Linked DNA regions of Homo sapiens: region 2 is linked to region 1. The links come from fine-mapping of genetic effects on gene expression. Tissue or cell type: aorta. Region 1 holds a variant in brackets; the other region holds the start of a gene. All regions are shown on one strand. Distances are between the middles of the regions.

What was found. PIP is the estimated chance that this variant, and not a neighbour inherited with it, causes the effect.
Region 2: it holds the start of TMEM216, and the variant in region 1 is fine-mapped to the expression of TMEM216 in aorta (GTEx, PIP above 0.99).

What each region holds. Positions count from the first base shown.
Region 1 is chr11:61,087,628-61,095,731 of GRCh38, forward strand. It overlaps LOC105369325 (a long non-coding RNA gene), which reads right to left and starts at 4,731. Exons shown (of 2, transcript NR_188502.1): 1 at 4,670-4,731. It also overlaps a transcript of CD5 not described here. RefSeq lists enhancers at 4,004-4,053, 4,332-5,294. The variant C/A (reference allele first, on the strand shown) is at 3,226.
Region 2 is chr11:61,388,951-61,397,054 of GRCh38, forward strand. TMEM216 (transmembrane protein 216) reads left to right here and starts at 3,637. Exons shown (of 5, transcript NM_001173990.3): 1 at 3,637-3,715; 2 at 4,281-4,382; 3 at 4,934-5,026. The coding sequence starts at 3,682. RefSeq lists an enhancer at 3,402-4,363.

The DNA.
Region 1 (8,104 bases):
CTTCATCATTTCATCATCACCATCAGCATCATTACTGCCATTATCATCATTCTCATCATTGACATGATCATCACTATCATCATCACCACATATAACACCAATAAGTATTTGTTTCCAGATCATCCCACAGGGTCAACCCAACATGGCCCTGGCCTCAGAAGAGCTTACAGAATTAGGAACATATAACCCATGCTGAAGTGTTGGGGCTTGCTGGGACACATATCGAGGTGAGCGCTCCACATCGGTGTGGATGGGGTAGAAGTTGTTGAGCTATGCCCTCCCACCCTCCACACCAGACCAGAACCGACTCTCTCCAGATTGCCTTGGGGACCTGCCTCTTGCCACAGGCCAAGGCTGACTGCACCTGGACCCATCCCCTCATCTCTCAGAACTTCAGTCTCCTCATCTCTGAAACAAGGCTGGTGACCTCAGCTCCTCCAAACCTCCCAGCAATGGGCAAAGGGAAGGACCCGCCATCAAAGACAAACAGAAGTCACTCGAGGAATGTCCTGGACATTCAGTAAATGATCACAAACATGTCTCACTTTTATATCAAATTTGTCCCCCAAGGTGGAGTCCTGGACACTCACTAATGATCACAAACATGTCTTATTCTTATATCAAACCTGTCCCTCGAGGTGGACCTGGACCTCTTCCACACTGACAGTCACAGGGCACCTAGAGTGCCCATCATGGAACAGAAAAATCCTGATCCCTAAAGTAGTTATAAACCTACTCAAGTGTGTCCCTCTTTAAGTAAACTCAGCCAATCAGTATTCAGATCTACTAGAAGTAAGTTGGGATGGAGGTAACTAATTCAATTTTTACAGTGTGCTTTTAGTATTTAAAATGGTCATAATCCTTGATTCAAATAATTCTAATTAAAGGAAATAAGGATATGATTGTGCAAAAATATTTATCACAGTTATTTTTAATAGCAAAAAAAAAAAAATGAGGAGCTGGGTAAAGTGGCTCACGCCTGTAATCCCAGCACTTTGCGGGGCTGAGGCAGGAGGATCGCTTGAGCCTAGGAGTTTGAGACCAGCCTGGGCAACACAGCGAGACCCTATCTCTACAAAAAATTTGTTTTTAAAAATTAACCAAGCGTGGTAGCTCATGCCTGTAGTCCCAGCTAAGGCCGAGGAAGGAGGGTCACTTGAGCCCAGGAAGTCAAAGTAGCAGTGAGCTGTGATCGCACCACTGCACTCCAGCCTGGGCAACAGACTGAGATACTGTCTCAAAAAAAAAACAAAAAAAAAAAGAGTAAACAACACAAATGTCCAATAATAGGGATTGGTTAAGTAAAAATCAGAACTTTTATTAGCTATTGTAGACCCATTTTTAAAAACCATGTTATATAAGTCTATGACATGGCACGACACTCAAGATATACTTTAAGAAAAAAAGCAGATACAAAGATATCTCTTTATATATATCTACATATAGATATCTGTGTGTATATATCTTAAGTATATTTATAAAAGATATATAATTTATATAAAATATATATACCTCGTACATATAAACATGTATATCACAAATACATGATACTAATTTTGAAACAGTAGATTATCGTAATTATAAATTGAAAAGAATAAAATATATAACATATTAACTGTGGTCATAATGAATGGTAGGATTGTGAGTGGTTTTATTTTTTCTTTATATTCTATAGTTTTGCTAATTTTTCACAAAAGCATGCATTATTTTTATTATTAAAAAATCACGTTATAAAAATGTTATATGTTTTACATAATTATACAAACAAATACCAGGACTTTTTTCTTTAAAAGATTTTCTGCAGACCCCTTTTAAAATAAAATCCTTACCCAACCTCATGCTACCATCTTGATCAAATCTCACCCCCACAATTAATTTCTGTAAATGTAGAAACTATTCAACTCATTGATATTTTTATTTTATGAAAATAAGACTGCAATATATAAATTGTTCTGAAATTTAATGTTTTCACTGAGCAAAAATATCATGGACATTTCTCTGTGTCAGGATACGGGGATCTATGAGCCCTTTCTTGATGGCTATATTCCCAACTATTCCAGAGTGTAGCTGGTTTGGAACTTATTTGCCCTTTGCCCTATCTTTCCCGTGTTTTATTATCCGTTGGTGACTTCAGCACCCCTGTGCATACTGCCTTGCACCCTGGTGAGTATAGGAGGCTTCTCTAAAGGTAATAGTGTATACGAGATTTTTTTTTAATGTGGCTTTTGCCATTTTATCCCTTAAAAATGGCTGTATCAATTTTCCAGCTTCTGGTAACTGATATTCTTTAAATGAGACTCCAAGCTTCAACTGACAGATTGAGGAATCTGGTGGACCATCTGGTGCAGCGCCTTTATTTCACAGATAAACTGAGACCCGGGGGGAGAGACTCCACCCTAGGCACGGAGCCAGTGAGGGGCTGAGCCAGGATGCTGCCCACAGCGTCCCACTTCTGGACCCATCTAGAAGCCACTACGCTAGCAGGACTCAGAAGTCATTGTCCTCATGCTTCCCTCAGCCTGGAAAATTGATCCCACCACCAAGCTGGAAAACCACTCATCCTTTGGGTCTTCATCTAGATGTCACCCCCTCCAGGAAGCCTTCCCTGATTTTCCCAGAGGCTGGATTGGACACGCGTCCCCCTCTGTGCTCCCTCAGGCCTGGCCTTTCCATGCTGTGTCCCAGTTGCCTGTCAGGTAGCCTCCCCACTGGGCTGGAAGCTCAGGGCGGTGGTGGGGGGTGCGGGGAGCAGGGTGTGCTTGTCAGTCTGTTTCATGTGTCCCTGCTGAAAGCTTCTCTGTCAATCATTCATTTGTTCAAGAAATAGCTTTGTGCCGGGTGCTAGGTGCGGGGGAGAGAAGGCAGGAGCGCTCCTGACCAGTGTCAGGTCTTCAGGAACGCTAAGCACTGCTCTAAGAAGCTGAGAGCCACGCTGAAGCTCTGCGTGCTGACCGCCACGTGAGCCTTTTCCACAAGTGCACCCGGCCAGCCTCCCAACATCCCTTCAAGGCAGGCTGTGTTCCACCCGTTTTACAGATGGGATCTGAGGCTCCAAGGGCCAAGGCTGCCACACCGAGGACACACAGTTGGGTCAGCCGGCCTCCTAGGCCCCCAAGATCTCTACTGTGACACAGCGAAACCCCTAAATGGCCACGAGAAGCACCAGCCTGAGATGAGAGAGAGGCTGCACCAGGGCAAGGGGTGCCTGTGGAAGAGGAGGCCTGG[C/A]GGTCCAGTCCAAAGCTCACTGTTGGTTATCTGTGCACCTTGGAGAATTCACATAACCTCTCTGATCCTCAATTATTTCACATGAACAACAGCCTTCATTAACACCTGTCGTACACTACTAGGAGGCCTTATTTTCTCAACCAAAGCCTATGCCTTATGGTCGAACAAGTCTAATCTTACAGTAGCAGCGGAAGAGTGAATATGAATGCTGAGTCCTCAGGGCCTCAGGCTGCGGGATGTGTGACTGGCACCCCGGGCTGTGGGCAGGCCTACAGCAGGCCTGGGTTGGGGGGCAGGTAGCAATGGAAAGGGGCTCCAGGAACACAGCCCCAGTGAGGGGAACTTGAGGAGGGCCCAGCAGAGGCGGGGGCGAATGCAGCCTGAGCCAACCAGCCCGCTCACGCCAGGGTACCACTGATCACAGACCTTCCAGAAGCCACAGGAGGCTGCCTAGTGTTGTCCGTGAGGGGCTAGGAAAGTAGGGGGTCAGTGGGGGAGCCTTATCTGTCCCTCCAGGCAAGACGGCCTCCTCCCCAGCTGCTCGACTCGCACCTGGACTTGGGGAAAGTACACACACTGAGACACCTTCCCAAGCCAGCGGGACCCTGTTCAGGCCACTTGGAATCCTCAGTCTTCTGCCCCTCCCCAAAGCCCTGACACTCACTCAACACTCAGCTCCCTCTCACACTAGCGAAAGAGGTAAACCTCCAGGCCCCACACAGAGAAATCCCCCACCTCCGACTGGACTCGGCACGCCAGTCAAACACTTTCATGCTGGGTTCCTAGGACAAGAGAGCTGGGCCTCGGGACCATCCAATCTCTGCATTTTACATATGAGCCAACCTCGGCCCAGAGCATGACAGGGACTTGACTGCAAAGGTGCCAAAGGTGAGACTCGAATGCAGGTGCCACCAGGCCAGCGCGTCTCCACCACACTGCACGCCACATGCATGTCCAGACCTGGATCCTAGATCCTCCTTCTCCCCCTCCCCACCCCCCACCAACAGCCAAACTGGGTGGGAACAAAGCTGGGGGAGGAGAGGCACTTCCTGAGCTGGCGGGGAGGGGAGTGTTGCGAAGTCAGCTCCCTGGGTGCCCCCACCCCCACAGCCAAACAGAGGTTTCCAAGGATCCAGGTCACTGAGTCATCCACACACACTTGTAGGCCTCTTCTGCCCTTCTCATCTGGCCACCAGGCCATCCATTATCTTTGGGAATCATTCCATAGATTTCTTCCTTCATTCATTCAACAAACCCTGAGGTCCTACTATGCACCAGTCACATTCCTCAGCCTCCTTCACCTCCTCCCTCCCACCCTCAGCTCCTCCCCTTTCCCCAGATCCTAGTGCCCCTTTGCCCCAGTGAAGAGGGCACACCTGGGGGCACTGAGGAGTCACCGAGTCCAGAGGGGTGACAGACACAGGCACACCCCACCCCAGATTACCTGGTGTGGCCCACGGCAGCACCGGCAGGCACCTCTCCGGTAGAGGTTGAGGAGGTTCTGACACCCGGCCCTGGGGGCTCAGCAACCCCTTCCCCCACCTTCAGCCTCTACTGGGCCTCGCTGCCTGGAAAACCCAGCCTGGGCTCAGCTGACTTCCTCTTGTGTCATGGAAAGTGCAGTGATGGGGACAGGAAACTCCCGCCAGGGATCTGAGGTCTGAGTGGGGACAGGGGCCCAGAGGTTTCTGGACCTGGAGGCCCGGAGGGGTGAAAGGGGCAGGGGTAACTTATGGGGGTGGGCAGCAGGGAGGGAGCCTATAGGGCAGTGTTCTCAGAGGGCAGCGACCCCCTCCACTAGGGTCGAGGCAGTGCCAAGCCCTGGGGGCCTGGAAGACAGCAACCCGAGGCCCTGAGCTACTTTCAGTTTTCCAAAACCAAACTAACAAACAAAAAGAGTAGAAGTTGTACTGTGATGAAGACTCTGAGATCAAAGCAAAGCCCAAATGTTTGGTTTGTTTTCTTTTCTTTGGGTAAGGAGGTGGGGAGTGGTGGCAAGGGTGGCAGAGTGAGGAAAACGTGGGATCATACTTCAGCGTTGACCTCCTGGGGCCGAATACTTTACCTTCTGAGCCTCAGTTTCCTCATCTGTGAAATGGAAAGCTGTGCCCACTTCCATGATAATTGGGAAGACTGAAGGAGCTGACGCCTCTGGCTAGAGGAAGGTGCTTAGTAAAACTTTCCTCGCTCTTTTGGGCTGCAATTATGTACACTGAGTGTGGGAACAGGGGCTGTGAAGGGCTGCTTACTGCACACAGCTGTGTGACCCACGAACAGCACTCATCAAGAAAAAACATCCCAGCAGAGTCTTTGGTGCTAAGAAGGGTGGAGCCATGTCTGTCTCTTTCGTCTTCACATCCCTGGGCTTAGCATGGGACAAATATTGATAAATGAATGAGTGAATGAATGAATGAATGAAAGAGGCTGGGATTTCCAGAGTCAAGGGACCAGGAAGGATGGATGTGAGGGCAAGGGGCAGGGGGCAGGGAACTGGGCCAGGCCTGGCCGGGAGGGGCCGGGTGAGGTTTCCCCATCCCAGGCTGAGGGCACCTCTGGCGGGAGGAAAAGGCACCTCTGAAGGCTGGATGAGGGATGGGTGTGGCCCCAATCACAGCTACCTTAGGAGTTCTCTTTCCTTGATCCTGGGGTGGGGGTCAAAGCTTCCCTCTGCCAAAGAGGTTCAAGCATGCAGCACCCTCCAGCCCTGAGTGAGCAGAAACCGGGGAGTGTCTAAGTGGGTCTAAGGGAGGAGACCACCCCTCCTATTGTCTTATGCCCGATTTCTGCCTCCAAAGAAAGAAGAAGTAAAAACTAAAAGGCAGAAATGAAATCCACAAGCAGACAGCTCGGCGCCACACCCTGGGCCTGGTAGTTAAAGATCGACCCCTGACCTAATCGGTTATGTCATCTATAGATTACAGACATTGTATAGAAAAGCACTGTGAAAATCCCTGTCCTGTTCTGTTCTAATTACCGGTGCATGCAGCCCCCAGTCACGTACCCCCTGCTTGCTCATTCGATCACGACCCTTTCAAGCGGACCCCCTTAGAGTTGTAAGCCCTTAAAAGGGACAGGAATTGCTCACTCAGGGAGCTCGGCTCTTGAGACAGGAGTCTTGCTGATGCTCCCGGCTGAATAAACCCCTTCCTTCTTTAACTTGGTGTCTGAGGGGTTTTGTCTGTGGCTTGTCCTGCTACATTTCTTGGTTCCCTGACCAGGAAGCAAAGTGATTAACGGACAGTTGAGGCAGCCCCTTAGGCAGCTTAGGCCTGCCTTGTGGAGCATCCCCGCGGGGAACTCTGGCCAGCTTGAGCGACACGGATCCTCAGAGCGCTCCCAGGTAGGCAATTGCCCCAGTGGAATGCCTCGTCAGAGCAGTGCATGGCAGGCCCCTGTGGAGGATCAACGCAGTGGCTGAACACAGGGAAGGAACTGGCACTTGGAGTCCGGACAACTGAAACTTGGTAAGACTAGTCCTTGGAACTTGCCCACTCCATTTGAGTGGAAGCATGGCCCAATCACCCATGGCATGCCTTTATCAGCACTTTGGTTTTGGTTTTGGTTTTGACTTGGTTTGAATCGCTTGACAGGACTGGTCTTGGGAACTTGCCTACTCCATTTGAGTAGAAGCGTGTCCTGATCACCCACAGTGTGCCTGTACCAGCACTTTGGTTTTTGTTTTTGACTTGTCTTGGATTGCTTGATACTTTGGTTTTGGTTTTGACCTGGCTTGGATTTCTTGATACTCTGATTTTGGTTTTGATTCTGGCTTGGCGTAAACTGTAAAAGTGTGTGTGTGCCCTTTTTACCCGTTCTTTGTTTTGTGGTGTGAGCATGGTGTTTTGTCTCGAGGAAACATGGGTCAGACACAAAGTAAGCCTACCCCACTAGGAACTATGTTGAAAAATTTCAAAAAGGGATTTAAGGGAGACTCTGGAGTCACTATGACACCAGGAAAACTTAGAGCTTTGTGTGAGATAGACTGGCCAGCATTAGAGGTGGGTTGGCCATCGGAAGGAAGCCTGGACAGGTCCCTTGTCTCGAAGGTATGGCACAGGGTAACCTGTAAGCCAGGGCACCCAGATCAGTTCTCACATATAGATTCTTGGTTACAGCTAGTTTTGGACCCCCCGCAGTGGTTAAGAGGACAGGCAGCAGCAGTACTAGTAGCAAAGGGACAGTTAGTTAAGGAAGGTTCTCGATCCCACCCGCCGAGGGAAGTCAGCACCAAAAGTCCTGTCCAACCCAACACCAGAAGAGTCACAGCAGGAATTGGTACCAGCAGTATCCCCTCCTTATCAAGAGGAAGGGCTCCCCACTCCTGAGCCCACAGCACCTACAACTCCACCAGATAACCACACCCCAGACCACCCAGAGTAGACAAAAGAGGAAGTGAAGCCACGGGAGAAACTCCTCCCTTGAAAGCTCGCTTACAGCCCAAGACTGGAATCCAAATGCCCCTGAGAGAGCAGTGATATACTGGGGTAGATGAGGACGGACACATGGTGGAAAGGCGTGCCTTTGTGTATCAACCTTTTACCTCTGCTGACCTCCTCAATTGGAAAAATAATACTCCATCTTACACTGAAAAGCCTCAAGCTTTAATTGACTTGCTCCAAACTATTATACAGACTCATAATCCTACTTGGGCTGACTGCCACCAGCTGCTCATGTACCTCTTTAATACAGGTGAAAGGTGAAGGGTGCTCCAGGCGGCAACTAAGTGGCTAGAGAAGCACGTCCCAGCCAATTACCAAAACCCCCAAGAATATATAAGAATTCAGCTGCCAGGAACAGACCCCCAATAGGACCTGAACGAGGGACCAGACATGGAGAGGCTAAGACGGTACCGTGAGGCATTAATAGAAGGTCTAAGGAA
Region 2 (8,104 bases), 300 kb after region 1:
CTCTTCCCTCTACCTCTTGGGCTCAAGCAATCTTCCTGCCTCAGCCTCCGAAGTAACTGGGACTACAGGTGTGCACCACCATGCCTGGCTAAATTTTTTTGTTTGGGTAGAGACAGGGTCTCACTGTGTTGTCCAGGCTGGTCTTGAACTCCTGAGCTCTATTGATCCTCCTGCCTCAGCTTCCCAAAGTGCTGGGATTACAGGCATGAGCCACTGGACCCAGCCCCCAAGGTTTTTACTGGGAGCTGATCATGAAGGCACCCTCTGCCTAACATGTTTCAAAACTCCAGACTCTGAGAAGGAGAACAGGTATTTAGCATAAGCCACATTGTTTGTACAGTTTAGGCACTGTGAGCCACTTTAAACTGGTGGGAACACTACCAAAAGCCAAGTTCCCTTACGCCAGGCAAGGGTCAACCTTGCAGTTGGGCCTCTCCAAAGACAGCAGCCTCAGGTCTGCTATGTTAAGTTTTTTCTGTACAGTCTCATAAGCAAATGGGTTTTTTATTTTTTCCAGGAAGACATGGTTGGTCATACCTCTGAAAATCAATGTAATTCATATTAGCAGAATAAAGGAGAAAAATCATATAGTCCTCTCAACGGATTAAGAGAACACACTTAATAAAATATATCATAAGCCTTTTAGCAAACTAGGATAATAAGGGACTTTCTTAATCTGATAAAGAGTATCTACAAAAAAAATCTATAGCCACCATATTAATGGTGAGATATTGAACGCTTCCCCTGAGGTTAGGAACAAGACAAGACTATCCATCATCACCACTTATAGTCAACATTACACTGCCAGTCCTGGCCAGTGCAATAAGGCAAGAAAAAGAAATTGAAGGTATAGAGATTGAGAAGGAAGTAAAAATGTCTTTATTTACTGATGATGTGATCATGTACATAACAAGCCTCCTAGAAATAATCAATTTAGCAAGGGCACTGGCTGTTGGGACAGTCTTGCATGGGTCCTAAGCATCCCTGCATGTTCTTACTATGTCAAACCAGAAAGTCTGTCTCCTGATACTGAGCACAGAAGCAATTAAGTAGACCAAAGTGACTATAGTGTGATGATAGTATAATTTCTCCCTCCCCAGTGGAAAGGGCCTGGCTTTATTTGCTGCTTGCTAAAAAGGGTACTGAGCCTTTGGCTCTGGGCTCCACCAAGCTGTGGCATAACTCCTTGAGTGCAGCACCATCTGGGGTCATTGTGTCACTCATAGGACTTGGGAGCAGGGGGCCCCCAGGTTGCCATGCTGATGTTCCTGCTGTTTGCCATAAGTAATTTGGCCTCACTGTCAGCTTTTGGCATCTATGAAGTTGTGGCATACTCTGACATAGATTAGCCAACTTTTTCTTAAAGGGTCAGATGGTATTTAAGGCTGTGGGCCATGTGGTCTCTGTTGCAACTACTTAACATTGCCATAATAGCATGAAAGCTGCAATATATAATAACATGTAAGTAAGTGACCATGATGACGTTCTCCAAAGAACTTTTATTTACAAAAACAAGCAGCTGGCCCACTTTCTTTGTTTTTCTTTTGAGACATAGTTTCACTCTTGTTGCCCAGGCTGGAGTGCAATGGCTTGGTCTCAGCTCACTGCAACCTCCGCCTCCCAGGTTCAAGCGATTCTTATGCCTCAGCCCCCCAAGTAGCTGGGATTAGAGGCATGTGCCATCATGCCCGGCTAATTTTGTATTTTTAGTAGAGATGGGGTTTCACCATGTTGGTCAGGCTGGTCTTGAATTCCTGACCTCAAGTGATCCACCCGCCTCAGCCTCCCAAAGTGCTGGGATTACAGGTGTGAGCCACCGCGCCAGGTGCAGCTGGCCCACTTTCTTTCCATATCAGGCTCAGAGCAGGAACTTTTCTAATGTCTCTTGTCTTGCAGGCAGCGAAGATGGGGAAGCAGGATCTGGATTCCTTTCCACCTTAACCTCTGTGCTCTGCGCTTTCCTACTTACCCTAAAGGGCTTCCTTGCCCTCCAGCTTGCAGTTAAGTTGTGTCAGCGGGAGACATAAGCAGAGATCAGAGATGGGAGAAGGGAAATGGAGGTCCCTGCTATATTTATCCACTAGCCTCCTAGAGTGTGAGGGTTCCTAGTGGGAGGCCTTCTATGCACATATTACTCTCCAGCTTCAGGGAATTGTTTCAGGCCCTTCCCTTTTAAGCCTAGAAGTAACAATTACCGCCCCACCACATCCCAATTAGCCAGGGGTACAGCACTTTGCTTAAAGCTTAGTCACTCTTGGCCGGGGGCATTAATCACACCTGTAATCCCAGCACTTTGGGAGGCGGGGGGGGGGGGGGGGGGGGGGGGGGGGGGCGGGTCACCTGAGGTCAGGAGTTCCAGACCAGCCTGGCCAACATGGTGAAACCCCGTCTCTACTAAAAATGCAAAAATATTTAGCCGGGTGTGGTGGGGGGCACCTGTAATCCCCGCTACTTGGGAGGCTGAGACTGGAGAATCGCTTGAACCCAGGAGGCGGAGGTTGCAGTGACCAGAGATAGCGCCATTGCACTCCAGCCTGGGTTACAAGAGCAAAACTCCGTCTCAAAAATAAAATGAAATAAATAAAATAAAGCTTAGTCACCTTCCTCAGGCTACCTGGTTGGAGCGTGCCATCTGTTTCCTGCTTTACCCTGATTGACAACGGGCTAACAGCCAAGTCAAGTCAACCTGAGTCCTCTCAAAACCCTTCTTTTTGCACTCCCCTGCCTGCAGCAACACAGTTTTCTGTTTTTTTTTTTTTTTGAGACAGAGTCTCACTGTCGCCCAGGCTGGAGTGCGGTGGCGCGATCTCAGCTCACTGCAACCTCCGCCTCCCGGGTTCGAGCGATTCTCCTACCTCAGCCTCCCAAGTAGCTGTAACTACTGGCGCGCGCCAGTACGCCCGGCTAATTTTTGTATTTTTAGTAGAGACGGGGTTTCGCCATGTTGGCCAGGCTGATTTCGAACTCCTGACCTCAGGTGATCCATCACCTCGGCCTCCCAAAGTGCTGGGATTACAGGCGTGAGCCACTAAGCCCGGCCAGCAACACGCTTTTACCGCTGCAAATCCGGATCAGGCAGGCTTTGAAGCCCAGCTCACAGGCCGTCTCTTGGAAACTAACTTAGATTTCCACCTGGGAGCACTTTGTCCTCTCAGCTCCCACTGCACCACTTTATGGATCGCGTGGTGACTCGTTTCATTTTATTTATGTGTGTTCCTGGAAAGGACGCTCTATTTCCTTCGTGTCTCTACCTGGTAGGTAAATCGGCCGCAGAAAAGACCAATGCTAACTCCACCCTGCATTTGCAGAGATCCGTCGCTCACACCTTTTCTTGTCTTCCGTTGAAAAAAGAGAATCGTGGGAGTAGGACCTATTTGCCAATCTCCTGGTAACACTATCACAACTGGCCACTTCCGCCCAACGCCCGGTAGTCTGAGAGCCTCCAAGGTCCTCCCCCGCACCCCTGAGGTCCTGCAGACGACGGCGTCGTGGGTGGTCACCGTTATCCCTTAGGTCTGGAGAGGGGACATCCGAGCGAGGGCCACTTGCGGCCAGGCCCGAGCTCGTCCAGCTCCGGGTGACCACAGAGTGCCGCGGGCGGGCAGAGGGGCCGGAAACCCAGGCCGCTTCGTCCCTGTTTCCGGCAGCGCCGCGCTGCTCCGGGAGCCGCTGTGGCAGCGTATGCTGCCACGGGGACTGAAGATGGCGCCGCGAGGTGAGATTCCGGAGGTGTGTGAGTCGCTGGTCCCTTTCCCTTCGGTCGCTCCCTCCCACCTCTGTCCCAGAGCTTGACCTAAACCCTCCATTCTCTAGCGTTAGGGACGTCGCGCCTCCCTGGTCCAAAGCCGGCTTCCGCGGTCCCGCCCACCCTGGGTGCCTGAAGGTCTCAAGGTGCACAGCTCAAATAAACGCAGATCCTTGGCTGGGCCACTTCTAGGCTGGCTCAGGTGCGAATCTGTTGGTCTCTGCGCCCCAACTTCCCCTCCCAAATAGTGACAGAGTGAGATCTTTGAGATGTCTGTCAGCTGCGAGTTACCTCTTGACTTTTATTCCTGAAGCCGAAGAGTCGAGTTTCACGGTGATTCCTAGGAAAGGAGGGAAGCCCCCTCCACTCCCACCCCCGTACCCTCGCCCCCTCATTATCAGCAACCAGAAGTGCCCCTGAGTGGCCGGTCCCATTAGTTGCAGCGTCTAGTTTCCCCAAAGTTAGACACCAACCCATACGAGCAGAGAGGGAGCTGCCTTCCGGCCCATCCCACTTCTCTGTGCTCCTTTTTCAGGTAAACGGTTGTCCTCCACCCCGCTGGAAATCCTGTTCTTTCTGAACGGGTGGTATAATGCTACCTATTTCCTGCTGGAACTTTTCATATTTCTGTATAAAGGTAAGGAAGGCTTGGGGCTTGACGACAGCATCCCTTCCCCACTTCAGCTCAGAGCCAATTCCTACCAAGAACCTTCTTATTTTCCGTTCTTTTCTGCCCCCTGCAGTTCTTTGTCGCTGCAAGGCAGGCCTCCTCATCAGATGGCTTCTTTGAGTATGATTCCATAGGCAGCCCCTCAGCAAGAATTTCTTGAGTTTGAGAAATGTGGGCTTCTCCATTCTGACTCTGCCCACATCACTGCTCTTTGCTGAGCTCCACTGTAAGCCCACTGGTGACCCTTAGAAACTATTCAGTGGCCTGTGTACCCATGTACATCCAATCATTTTGGAGAGTGGAGTCCCCAGAGACTTTTGGAGTTAGGAGTAAAACACCATAATAATGAGCCTGAGTCGCATTGTGAGTTTATGTATCCTGCTGCTGTAATAATGCCCACATCTCACTAACTAGTTCATGGAAAGCTGAGACTGATGTCCTCTTTTTTCCCAAGTGTGTGGCAGTTCTTGTGGGTGCTGTTATATGCTGTTTGCAAACTCTGGCTTTTGTATTGGCAGGTGTCCTGCTACCATATCCAACAGCTAACCTAGTACTGGATGTGGTGATGCTCCTCCTTTATCTTGGAATTGAAGTAATTCGCCTGTTTTTTGGTAAGTGTTGTCCAGAGAATATTTCCACTCCTTATGAGACAAGCTGGTATCTGTAACTTGATTAACAAGAAAAGTACATAACCTAGGTTGACTATCATAGACTGGATCTGTATATCCTATTACTCCGTCTCTGAAGTTTCAAGTTGCTGCTTCATACATTGGGTCAAGATTTACCTGTTTGTTGCTCTGTAAGGCTAGAGATGGGCAATAGAATGGGATATTAGATGATTCCTTCCCAGCTGCCTAACTGCAAGAAGAGTGCTTGGTTCTTCTCACTAGTATTCTTAGGGGAATAGGTTCAGTTGTAACTCCACGTCAGGGCAGGCAGTGTATCCTGTACAGATCAGTACTAAGATCCCTAACAATTCTCTGAATAAGGATCTCTGTAGGAGTTTTTTGTTTTTTTTTTTTGAGATGGAGTCTCACTCTGTCCCCAGGCTGGAGTGCAATGGCACGATCTCGGATCACTGCAATCTCTGCCTCCCGGGATCAAGCGATTCTCCTGCCTCAGCCTCCTGAGTAGCTGGGATTACAGGCGTGCACCACTGCTCCCAGCTAATTTTTGTATTTTTAATAGAGACGGGGTTTCACCATGTTGGCCAGGATGGTCTCGATCTCTTGACCTTGTGATCTGCCTGTGTCGGCCTCCCAAGGTGGTGGGATTACAAATGTGGGCCACTGCACCTGGTTGGATTTTTTTTTTTTTTTGAGATGGAGTCTCACTCTGTCACCTGGGCTGGAGTGCAGTGGCACCATCTCGGCTCACTGCAGCCTCCGCCTCCCGGGTTCAAGCAATTCTCCTGCCTCAGCCTCCTGAGTAGCTGGGACTGCAGGCGCCTGCCACCATGCCCGGCAAGTTTTTATATTTTTAGTAGAGATAGAGTTTCACCATGTTGGCTAGGATGGTCTCGATCTCCTGACCTCATGATCCACCCGCCTTGGCCTCCCAAAGTGCTGGGATTATAGGTGTGAGCCATCACACCTGGCCAGATTTTGTTTTTTAAACATTTATTTATTTGAGACAGGGTCTCATTCTGTCACCTAGGCTGTAGTACAGTGGTACGATCATAGCTCACAGCAGCCTTGAAGCCCTGGGCTCAAGCAGTCCTCCAACTTCAGCCTCCTGAGTAGCTGGGACCACAGGTGTGCGACATCATACCTGGCTAATTTTGTGTTTTTTGTAGAGACAGTGTCTTGCCTTGTTGCCCAGGCTGGTCTGAAGCTCCTGGCCTCAAGCAATCTTCCTGCCTTGGCCTCCCCAAGGTGCTGGGATTACAGGCGTGAGCCAACATGCCTGGCCTGTAGGACAAGTTTTATAACCCCAGAAATACAGAGCAAAACCCTTATTTGTTAGAATATGTCATCCCTGAAATCAACGTTAAAGCACAAACTTAGGAACAAAATTACTTGCAACATATAAGAAAGGATAAAAGAAGGCTCACATAAATCACTAAGGAAAAAACAAAATAACTTTAAAAATTGGCTGGGCGCAGTGGCTCACGTCTGTAATCCCAGCACTTTGGGAGGCCGAGGTGGGTGGATCATTTGAGGTGAAGAGTTTGAGACCAGCTTGGCCAACATGGTGGCCGTCTCTACTAAAAATACAAAAATTAGCTGGGTGTGGTGGCGCGCACCTGTAATCCCAGCTACTTGGGAGGCTGAGGCAGTAGAATCGCTTGAACCCAGGAGGCAGAGGTTGCAGTGAGCCAAGATCGCCCACTGCACTCTAGCCTGGGCGACAAAGTGAGACTCAAAAAAAAAAAAAAATTGGTAAGGGACATTAATGGCAGTTCATGTAAAAATAATTACAGAGAACCAGTAAAACTTGACAAGATGCTCAAACTCGCTAATAAAAATCAAATTGAAACAAAGTAACATTTTTTACCCATCAGACTGGCAAAGAAAGATTTATAACACCCAGTATTAGGGTGTGGGGAACAGGTTGTTATACACTTTTGTGGTAATTTAATTTAGTACAACTCTTGGGTAGTAGTTATTACTGTGTAATGTTTTACTGTTAGCCCCAACAATTTCACTTCTAAAACTAGATTAAAAAAAAATTCCACAGATATGCGAAGATAGCTATATGAGAATGTTTATTGCCAAAAATTTGGTAACATCAAAACACTGTAAACAAACTAAACATCTGTCCATACGGGATTGTTAAATCAGTTACGGCACTGATTCAACGGACTTGTATATAACCATTAAAAAAGAACAGTTGCTGGGCATGGTGGCTCACGCCTGTAATCCCAGCACTTTGGGAGGCTGGGGCAGGCAGATCACGAGTTCAGGAGATCGAGACCATCCTGGCCCACATGATGAAACCCCATCTCTACTAAAAATACAAAAATTAGCTGGGTGTGGTGGCACGTGCCTGTAATCCCAGCTACTCGGGAGGGTGAGGCAGGAGAATCACTTGAGCCCGGGAGGCGGAAGTTGCAGTGAGCCGAGATTGCACCACTGCACTCTAGCCTGGCGAGAGAGCTAGACTCTGTCTCAAAAAATTAAAAAAAATTAAAAAGAACAGTTAAGGCCAGGTGCAGTGGCTCACGCCTGTAATCTTAGCACTGTGGGAGGCCGAGGCGAACGGATTGCCTGAGGTCAGGAGTTCGTGACCAGCCTGGCTAACATGGTGAAATCCTGTCTCTACTAAAAAATACGAAAATCAGCTGGGCATGGTGGCGGGCACCTGTAATCCCAGCTACTTGGGAGGCTGAGGCAGGATAATCGCTTGTACCTGGGAGGTGGAGGTTGAAGTGAGCCGAGATCGCTCCATTGCACTCCAGCCTGGGTGACAAGAAACTCCGTCTCAATAAAAAAAAAAAAAAATTAGCTGGGCATAGTGACGTGTACCTATAGTGGGAAGATCCCTTCAGCCCAGGGGTTCGAGGCTGCAGTGAGCTATGATGATGCAATTGCACTCCAGCCTGGGTGACAGAATTAAACACTATCAAAAAAAAAAAAAAATTAAGGTAGCTATGTGTGTGGAAAAATGTTTGTGGGGGAAAAATAAGTTGCAAAACAGGATGTAGGGTATGCTTCTATTTTTATAATAATAAATAGTAATATGTGAAT